Homo sapiens: one gene and its partner. The protein of the gene in region 1 interacts with the protein of each later gene in a pairwise test. Each region holds a gene or a part of one and is shown in the gene's direction. Other genes may lie near its edges.

The links.
Region 2: the proteins of CALU (region 1) and CTNNAL1 interact in a two-hybrid assay, tested with the Homo sapiens proteins (one large-scale study listed by BioGRID and IntAct).

Annotation. Positions count from the first base shown.
Region 1 is NC_000007.14:128,737,383-128,743,225, forward strand, and holds the start of CALU (calumenin isoform a precursor), read left to right. Parts: upstream 1-1,976; 5' UTR 1,977-2,050; intron 2,051-5,843. UniProt on the Homo sapiens protein: Involved in regulation of vitamin K-dependent carboxylation of multiple N-terminal glutamate residues. Seems to inhibit gamma-carboxylase GGCX. Binds 7 calcium ions with a low affinity.
Region 2 is NC_000009.12:108,974,500-108,979,565, reverse strand, and holds part of CTNNAL1 (alpha-catulin), read left to right. Parts: intron 1-84; coding exon 85-285; intron 286-2,517; coding exon 2,518-2,604; intron 2,605-5,066. UniProt on the Homo sapiens protein: May modulate the Rho pathway signaling by providing a scaffold for the Lbc Rho guanine nucleotide exchange factor (ARHGEF1).

The DNA of each region.
Region 1 (5,843 bases):
AACCTCAGGGTTGGAGGGCCCTATCTCTGGCACCCTCACTACCTGTTTAGCCTTTACTAGGACAATTCCAGGATGGATGGCGCACCATTAAGCTGAGTTCCTTGAGGACAGGGACGATGTCCTGTTTACTTTGGGTTCACCAGCACATAACACAGTGCCTGACCTTAAGGAGTTGTTATTTTTATTTTTTAAGAGAAAGGGTCTTGCTCTGTTGCCCAGGCTGGAGTGAAGTGGTACAGTCATAGTTCATTGCAGCCTCAACCTCCTGGGCTCAAGCAACTAGCTTGAACTACATGTGTGTGCCACCACACCCAGCTAATTTTTAGTTTTTGTTTTTTTGTAGAGATAGGGGGAGGAAGGGTCTCGTTATTTTGCCCAGGCTGGTCTCAAACTCCTGGCCTCAAGTGATCCTTAAGGAGGTATTTTAAAAACTGTTTTCGAAATAATGCCTCCTGAGGTAGCCTGTTTTATTGTTAATACCCATTAGATGGCTTCCCTGTAGGCACAAGCTTAGAAACTTTCCCAGGAAGACCCACAGTTCCCACTGTCTTCAGTTCAGGTTCCTCAAATTGACAAGATCTTCCATTACCTCTCCAAACTTACTATCCATGCTTTTCTTTCATTGTTTCCCCCCACCCCTTTTTTTAACCTTCCTCATTTGCTACCTGGCCTGAGAATTTACCTCCCACTCTGCCCTCCACTTGTCCTTATTCCTATTACTCTTCTTGCTGAATAGTCCATTTGGGACTTCCTTAGTCCAGCCTTAGTCATATCTTCCTCTGAAGCCTTCCCTGACTACCACCAAGGGTCACTGACACTCCTTTGAATGCCAGAAGGATTAGTTGTAAACCTTTCACGTTGACAGTAACTAGCTTGCTTTCATGAGCTTAACTGTTTCATGAGTTTACAACTTGTCTCAATTTGATTTTAAACTACAGAGGCTTTATGTGCTAAGAATGCCACAGGTTTACATTCCATTTGTGTTGAAGCTATAGTAGCCTTTATTTGATATTTGTTTTAATTTCATGACATGAAATTAAATTTTCAGGGACATGCAACGGGTTCGGCCCATTCCCTTCACTTAACATTACTGAGCTGGGCAGTAAGCTCAGAGTTGCAGATATAAAGATGAATAGACAGATACCTACCCAGGAGCTTACTCTAGAAGAGGACAGATGGATAAGCTACATTTTATAGCAGAATTTGGCAAAGTGTACTGAAGCTATAAACAGCTATGATGGTAAATAAGGTAAGAATTATGCTTAGTGAGGTCAGGGAAGGCTTCTAGAGCTAACATCTGAACTGGGACTTCTATTGGCAAGGCAGAAAATCAGGAAAACGCACTTATTCCTGGCAGAGGAAGCCTCTTGATCAAAAATCTTAAGAGATGAAAAAGGACCGGTTGTTAGGAAACAGATGATGGTGCCCAGAGCGCAAGATGAGGGGGAGTGTTGGGAGATGGAGCTAAAAGATACACTGGTGCCAAAGACTGAAGAGCCTCCTGTAGATAGCGCAGGGCGCAGCGCTGAAGGGAAAGAAAAAGTTGGGATTGTTCAATAAAGTTGGTGACTGATTCAGTCGGATTAATTCCGCCCTGGTGGTCTTGTGGGAATGAAGATAACTAGCAGGATAGTCTAAGAAGCCCTGTGGAAGCAGAGTCATGAGCTGTGAATGGGGACGTGGCGGCCACACGGCCGCGCCCACGCCACCCGCAGTACGGGGCTGGGGCTGGGGCTGGGGCTGGAGCCCGCCGTCCCAACAATCCCGGGGACGAGAGTTGGGCGGGAATCCGCTCCACGCAACTCGGCGCGGTCCCGGGGACGTGGCGCTTTCCAGCCAATCCCGGCTATGCGATTGTTAGACCAATGGCTACTCGGGGACGCTATGCGACAGCGGCGGGTTTGCTGATGATTGGTCGGGAGGCCGCCGGCGAGGCGGATGAGGGCGGGGTGCGGACCCGCTTCCGGTTGGGCGGTGCTTGCGCGCGTGAGCTGAGCCGGTGGGTGAGCGGCGGCCACGGCATCCTGTGCTGTGGGGGCTACGAGGAAAGGTAAGTACGGTGATGCCCAGCCCCTTCACCACTGCCTCATCTTTATTCGCTTTCTTTCTGTCCCCGGTCTTGTTCTTGGCGCGGCAGGGGACTGCCTCACTCGGTGCCGCTGTCTCTGCTGGCGCCCGGGTCCCAGGCCTGATGCTGCTGGAGATCCCGGGACCCTCTGTGTGCAGCCTGGGATGGAGGCCGCCGCCCGTCTTACCGCGCGCTCTGGGAAGGGGGCTGGTCCGGTGGAACTCTGTCCCGTTGGGTACTGTTCTGTGCCTGGTTTGCTGCGTCCTGGTCCTCCATCTCTAGGTCACGCCACTCACCGAGTCTCTGGCACCAGAGGGTCATTTTTTGCCTCCGGAAGGTCGGAGGGCATTTGGATAGTGTTATTGTAAGAGTTCCTTGCCGCCTCCACTCACCATCCTGCTTGTATCTGCCAGCTCCGCCCCAAGGCCACATCCCGACAGTAGGGTGCATCTGCCAAGGTCGTGTTCACTCACCTAAAGGGTGCAGAAACAAGGGGGGAGAGAACGAGTGACGACACTAGGTGATATCTATGATTTTAAAGAAAAGCTGAATGTTTAGAGCTTCCATATTTGGCTACGTACTTCAGTTAGCGACGGAAAATAGTTTTTAAAGCTTTATTGGGGAATTAATTTTTGTTACGTTTTTTGTTGCTTCTAGCCCCATATCCTACTGATTTTTAGCATGCTGCGGTCAGAAATAAACTTAATTCCCTATAGCTGCCGCGATTAAGCGTAGAGTGGCTTGCAGTTTCAAAAGCTGCTTTTGCATCAAGGCCCAAGCTCCGTGGGTCTCCTGCTAAAACTTTTGAGCCTGTGATCTGAATTCCTAAGTGTATAAAATTCTAGAATAGTGTCTTCGAGAATTGAGTTGCGTTCATTTTCTGGTGTGGACCATGAAGTCAACGTTAATGAATTGGGAATAAGGTGGCTTCTAGTTGTTTTTTGTTCTAGTAGCTTATTCAGCTTGGAGGCAGAGAACCTTGGAATCTCTGTTAAATTAGTCTGCCATAGAATGGAACTTGACACAAGACAAATGCAAGTTTGACCTCACTCAGTAGATTTAATTAACCAAATACCAAACGACAGTAATCACTGAAGAATTTATATAGTATAATCCAAATGAGGGACCAGATATAACCTCTAAGTTGTATTTGTCAAGAAAATGAGTTTGCCAAGACCTAATCTGAGGTTTTACTGTGATTGGGGGGTGGGGGGGTTCCAATAGGATTCTTTTGAGAATCACAAGTAGGAAAGCCATGAGCTCACAAAAATGTATTGAGTATGCCTGAGTGAATAGTACTCAATATAGCTTTGAAACCAACTCATTGTCACTCTCAATGTAATCATTGTTTGTTTTCATTCATCCAGTGATGTGTCAAGAAGTACTTATTGATAGCACTTAATATCCATTAGAGCAGTATTGGGATCTATATATTGGTGTTATTTTTTAAAATTTATTTATTTTAGAGTTGAGGGTCTCAGTATGTTGACCAGGTGGAGCCTTGAACTCCCATGCTCAAGCAGTCCTCCTGCCTCAGCCTCCCAAGTAGCTGAGACTAGAGGTATATAACACCACACCCTAGTACATTGGTGTTAACACAGATTTTCTGTAACGTAGGTATACCAGGGATATTGAAAGGACAGAGGTGTAGCCAAGGATAGCCACTGGAAATGCTAGCTAGGCCACAAGGCCCTAGATTCTCACTCTCTGAACTCTTAAGTATGGATGTTGCTGATGCAGTAATTTATGTATTAGAGTTAAGACAGCTGAAATAACACTTTTGCCTGTTCCTGGCTGATTGCCAGATCCAGTAAACGGAATTGGAAGTTGGAGAACACAGGCAGGCAGGAACCACATTGCTGCCAAGTACCGCCCAATTAATTCAGTAAGATGTATTAATCCAGTAAAATGTATTGGTATCAAAAAAGTGCAAGACAATGTATTAGGGACAATATAGGGGTAATAATTTGTATTAGAATGATATGTAGACATTCTTCCAGAAATGTCGATTCTAAAGGGGAGCTAAGGAGACAACTTAAGGTAACCTATGGTCATTGTTTTTGAGTGGTTCAGACGAGTTTTATAGAAGTTTAGATTGGATCATACCCTTTTTGTCCAAAAAGAGAAAAAGATAACAGATCACTTCCAGCTAGAGTGATCATAGTAGGTAGGTCTTCTAGGATCTTAAATTTATTTATAGACATCTGGCACTGAAGGAAGTTTGAGCTAAAATAACTACCAAATTCTCAACAGTGTCACGCATGTTACACATGCACAGCAAAATTACAACTAGAAACCAAGGCTCCTATCCCTACATTTCAAATAGCATTTCTCTCACAATTGATTATGTATTAAGGCTTGTCAACGAAAAGGAAACTTTTTTCTCTCAGAATTTCTAGAACTTTTTTCTTTAAAAAGTTTTTTATTCTGTAGCCAGAAAAATTTAAAGTTTGTGCTGGGTTGCTTTGGTTATAGAACTAATGAAGCTTGAGTAATAGTTTCAGACATTCTCAGGGTTTTTCTTCTGCAGCCAGATTTTACACTTCTATTATCTCAGCTGTCTTATAAATGTATTCCCTCCATCACACAATATAATTAGAATGTATTGATGAACAGATGTAACTTCATCACTAGAGAGACGTTAAATAAATTATGTGTTGGTATCATGACTTTTATCAAATCATGAAGGATGCCATCACTTTTATGTGATAGTCCATTGGTATAGTACTAAAGTTTGTAAGTAAAGAATGTCAGATAGATAACAAGATAACTTCATTTTCGAGATCTCATAACCTGGGCCTTAGTATAGTTAAATTGCTATCAGTCTGTTCCCTGTAATCTCCAATTGAAGTAGACAGTTAAACAATGAGATCCTGCTTTTGCTGCGTTATGGAGAAATAAATGCCTTTTCTGGTGAATATCCATCCAGCTCAGAGAACTGGAATTTTACTACCACACCCATTTCTCCCAATTGTTAACATTGAGCAATGGGTCTTTGGTCAACCATAATAACTGTTGGATCACTCAGTGTTAACGTTCTTGTGAAGTTGAATTTAAACATCTAAATTTCCCTGAAACAATTTAAGTATTCTGTGACCAATGGCACTTTACCAAAATTGAAAGTTTGGGCCATGTATTGCTCGCAATACTGGTCCAATGGATACACTATGGACACTAAGGACAAAAACTTCCTTGAAAGCTCTAAGTTCTTACCTGAAGGGTGGGGTAGGGAGAAGTGATAAGAATTTAGAGCTTTTAAGGACATTTTTGGATGGATCGAAGAAACCAATTCTTAAGACTCATTATTATTAAAATCACACTTAACCCAGTTAGGCTTTTCTCTTTATAAATTACTGGAACGATTCATGAAAACAACTTTATAGAAGACCATTATTGGTGACATACTAATACTACAAAAGGATGATAGCTACTGGATATATTTTCTGTTCTAATCTTTTGGTTTGTGTCTAACATGCTGTCCAATAAAAATATAATACAAGCCACATATGTAATTTTAAATTTTCAGGTGAAAATCTAAAACAGGTGAAAGTAATTTTAATAATGTTTAATCTAATACATATAAAATACCATTCTTTCAATATGAAATGTAACACTTATACCAATCGCAATTCACACTAGCCACATTTCAAGTGCTTAGTAGTCACATGTGGCTAGTGGCTACTGTACTGGGCAGTACAGGCCTAGATTTTTTTTTTTTCCCAAGAAAAAAATATTAGATGTTACCCTTCGTGGAAGAGGGACAGAATTTTAGAGA
Region 2 (5,066 bases), on another chromosome or scaffold:
GGGCACTGTTAGAAATTACAGCCCATTTTGGTCAGGTGGGAATATTGACTCACATGGATGGATAGATGTCCTTTTTGTTCTCAGATGAATATTGAAGCTCTTCGGGAGAATCTTTATTTTCAGTCCAAAGAGAACCTTTCTGTGACATTGGAAGTCATCTTGGAGCGTATGGAGGACTTTACTGATTCTGCCTACACCAGCCATGAGCACAGAGAACGCATCTTGGAACTGTCAACTCAGGCGAGAATGGAACTGCAGCAGTTAATTTCTGTGTGGATTCAAGCTGTAAGAACTTTTTTTAAAATCAAAGTAAATCTTATATAATGGCTTTCCCATAAAGTTTTGCAAGATATGGAAGTTACATAATCACCAGGAGTATGAATTTGTTCCAGAATGGGACAGGATATCTCATCCCTTCTTTCCCTCCTAGTTGGCCAAAATATCCTTCCCATCTAGCACTTACAATACTTGACATTTATTTCCAGGCCTGTTGACTCTCATTCTAGCCAGTCTCAATTATATGCCTCTGTCACTATCACTAGTTCACACTGTTGTCCCTACTCTTCCACCAAACTCACCTCTGGAAAATTCCTCCCCAAAATACTTCTTCAGAGTGAAGAACAGAGGAGTAGACCCCCTCCTAGAGGTTCTTGGGACCTGAGCCTGACTGCTGGAGCCATTCACATGTACACAATTCTTACCTCTGAGGACAGCTGATTTACAGAGACAATGATTTAGAAAACTTATTGGGGTGTAGATTCAATGAAAACAAGGGTAGATCCAGCTGGCAAGTAAAAGCTTTTCACCCTTGCACAAATTCCTGGTCTAAAATTGGTGGGTGGCCACTCTGTGAGCCTTAAATGGGCTGTTGGTGTGCTTCAAACAGAGGAGCTTATTTGGGCAAGAATGGCCAAGACTGACAGAAGTGGGACAGACAGGAAGTGTGTGTACACAATCTCTTATAGCAGGTGGATTGCAAAGTGGAGAGACAGAGAGCCCTGGGACATGTCTCTAGCATTATTTATTTCTTAGGCCCAGGCTCTGTCAGAAAAGTATTTAACATGGCTTACAATATACAGCAGTGATAGTACAAATCTGGAAGTCATGAACAAAGCTTTGGCAGTAAAGATGATGAAGGAGGGTGGATATGGCTGAGACTGAAGAAAGAAGGAGCAGTTGATTTCCTTGTAAGTAGATTAATTTATGAATGAAAGTAGATATGAATCACAGATTTCTCTGATGTTTTCTTGGCATCACAGTAGTGCACATGTTCTTATTAACAGGGAATCTTGCCCTAGAGTATAGTCGTGTGAGAGACTTGAGCAATGTTTTGTGTTTAGTTTGAATTATCTGTGTGATACACAATCTGAAGTGTAGATTGCTTCAGTGTTCAGTTTTAAGTCCAACACTCACTATAAAGAGTTGCTTGTGATGAAATACTCTGTTGGGAATGTGATTCTATCAATACTCAAATTTGCAATTAGCAAATGTCACAAATTTAGCAAATTTACCCGTGCATATTTCACAAGCACTCAGATCTCTGATCCTGCATTCTAGGTGTATTTTTCATTCATTCATTTTTTTCAGCAGTTGTTACTGGTGCCTTTTATATGCCAAGCACCATAAATCTAAAGATGAATAAGCTAAAATCTTTGTCTGCAAGAATTTTACAATATAGAAATTTGCGGGAAGGGGTGAGACAAGTACAAATAGCTTTGTAAGTATCCTAAGAGAAAGTGTAGACTATGCATTGAGAGGGTTTGAAGGAGGACAAATTTATATTTAGGGAGGGGGCTCAAGAAGTCTTCATGAAGTAGTGATATTTAATTTTTATTTATCATGCAAAGAATTGAATATCTACGACCTACCATTTGCTATGCCAGGTACTGTGGATTTAGTGGTGTGCAAAATAGATGTGAACCCAGCTTTCGTGGCCTAGTGGGGAAGATAGACTTTAAACAAACAAAAAATAAAAAATTCCAGATGGTTTGGACTGAAAAAATAAATATGTAATTGCAAACTGGGACGATTATGGAGCAAAAAGATTACAGTGAGTAAGAAGAGGGTCTGATTTAGATTGAGTGATCTGAGAAAGCCTTTCTGAGAAAAAGACATTTATGTAAGATCTTAAAGATGAGTAGGATTTTAATTTTTAACTAGGTTAGGAGTGAAAGCATGGACATTCTAGGCAGAAAATAAAAGAGATTAATTTTAGACTTGAGTTTATTAAAGAAAATTAGATTTTAAAAGTTCACCTTTCAATATAATCCATAGGTTCACAGAAAAATAAATAAATAAAAAAACAGAAGTTCATCTATTTGTAGTTAGCATTGAAAAATATAACTAAACTGAAATTTTATTTTCCACTGTAACTTAAACAGGTAAATTTTGAAAATCTACTTTTATAGTTCACAGAATAGTATTAAAATTTATTACAATTTACAGTCCAAACAAAATTGTAATTAACAGATTAAAGAGATGCGGTAACATTACATGTATACTTTTTAAAATTTTTAGCAAAGCAAGAAAACAAAAAGCATCGCTGAAGAACTGGAACTCAGTATTTTGAAAATCAGTCACAGTCTTAATGAACTTAAGAAAGAAGTAAGTATAGTTTGAAATTTAGCCTCTTCTAATTCTTTGTGATTTTCATGTTGTATGGGTGTATGAAATACATTAGTATTATTAGTATGTCTCTGTGCCTAGAAAATGGTTTTAAAAGTTTTCCTTTGAGGCCAGGCATGGTGGCTCATGCCCGTAATTCCAGCACTGTGGGGAGGCCAAGGTGGGAGGATCACTTGAGCCTAGGAGTTTGAGATTAGCCTGGGCAACATGGCAAAACCCCATCTCTACAAAAAACACAAAAGATTAGCCAGGTGTGGTGGTTAGCACCTGTAGTCCCAGCTACTCGGGAGGCTGAAGTGGGAGAATCACCTGATCCCCAGGGCTCAAGGCTGCAGTGAGCCATGATCGCGCTACTGCACTTCAGCCTGGGTGCCAGAGTGAGACTGTGTCTCAAAAAAAGAAAAAAAAAAAAGTTTTCCTTTGACATAGTTATTTTGAAGCCATGATTTTATTAATGCCATCATTCTCAAAGCTTGCACATGAATTTTCATCACTTTATTCATAATAATAAAAAACTAATAACCTAGAATTCCATCAACAGAGGAATTGATAAATGAATTTTGGAATAATTCTACCAAATACTATTCAGTAATAAAAGAGAACAGTATTGATACATGCAACAATATGGATGAATCACTAAGACATACTAAGCAAAAGAAGCCAGGCACAAATGATTATATGTATAAAATTCCATTTAGAAAAAAACAATTCTAGAAAAGGCAAAACTAATTTATAATGACATAAATCAGATCAGTGGCTATCTTGGGTCAGAGGTTGGGGTATATTTACTGCAAAAGGGCATGGGAGGACTTTTTGGCATGATGGAAATGTTCAAAATTAGTTGTTGTGATTACATGGCTGTATATGTTCATCAAAACTCACTGAACAGTATCTTTAAAATGGGTACATTTTGTTTTATATCAATTCTATCTCACTGAAATAAATTTTAAAAGATATTCCTTTGGTTGAGAGGGTTTCCCTGTTCCCTGAATAAAAAATTGGTCATCTCATGACTTAGTTGGCCACTCTCAGGTTATTGAAAGTCCTATGGTCACTTTAAGTCAGGTGTTCACAAACTACAACTGGACCGTTTTCGTCAGTAGAGTGTATGGGGACACAATGCTGCCCATCTGTGGACCTACTGTCTACTGTTTTCTCACTACAACAGCAGAGTTGGATAGTCACAATAGGGCCTAAAATATTTACTCTCTGGCCCTTCACAGAAAAAGTTTACCAATTCCTGCTTTAAGTCACAAAACATAATCTCAGTTGAAAATTAGAATGTTAATCATTATTTAAATCTTCATTTAGTTGTAGAGCTTCTCCCCTGTTCCCTGTTTTCCCAGCTCCAACTAGATAGAGCTGGGAAGATGTGGTCTCTTCTCCCTTTTTCACTTTCCTCACCCTCCGTTACGTAGCTGTTGTTGATTTTTGTCAGGTTGTGGCATAGAGAGAGAAGAGAGAAAGTTGAGAGGCAGAAGGTTTTTAGTGACCAGCACCCTTATCAAATGGCTTTGGGCTTGGTAGACATTTACAGTGGACTCTCACTCTCATGGATACCTTAGTGGTTCTTCAGAGGCTTTCCTGTTGCCCCCCCTACCCCCACCCCTGCCCCTCAACCCCTTTATCCTGTTGCTCCCTGCGCTTTGAGGCATGCCTGGAGGAGGGAGTCACAGTGGGCACCCAGCAGCTCTCCAGACAGACCCTCCTCACACAGACCTCTCATTTCCCTTAGCTGTGCTTTCTTAATTCTTTTATTTTTATTTATTTATTTTTTTGAGATAGAGTCTCACTCTGTTGCCCAAGCTGGAGTGCAGTGGCGTGATCTTGGCTCACTGCCACCTCTACCTCAGGGGTTCAAGCGATTCTCATGCCTCAGCCTCCCGAGTAGCTGGGATTACAGATGCACGCCACCACGCCCAGCTAATTTTTGTATTTTTAGTAGAGATGGGGTTTCACCATGTTGGCCAGGCTGGTCTCAAACTCCTGACCTCAAACGATCCACCTGCCCTGGCCTCCCAAAGTGAGCCACTGCACCCAGGCTTAATTCCTTTATATTCTTGAAGACGGTCAAGGGCTCAAGACAATGAAATTAGAATTTTAAAAAAATTTTCTTATTTTTGAGATGGGGTCTCACTTTCTTGCCCAGACAATGGTGTGAACATGGCTCACTGCAGCCTTGACCTTCTGGTCTCAAGTGATCCTCCTGCCTCATCCTCCCATGTAGCTGGGCCACAGGTGCATGCCACCATGTCTGGCTAATTTTTTGTAGAGATAGGGTCTCACTATTATAAGCTCAGGCTGGTCTTGAACTCCTGGGCTCAAGCAGTGTTTCTGCCTTGGCCTCCGAAAGGGCTGGGATTACAGGTGTAAGCCATCATGCCTGGCTGAAATTGGTTTTTGGATGTTTCTTATATAAATTTTATACGTGGTGATCTGTT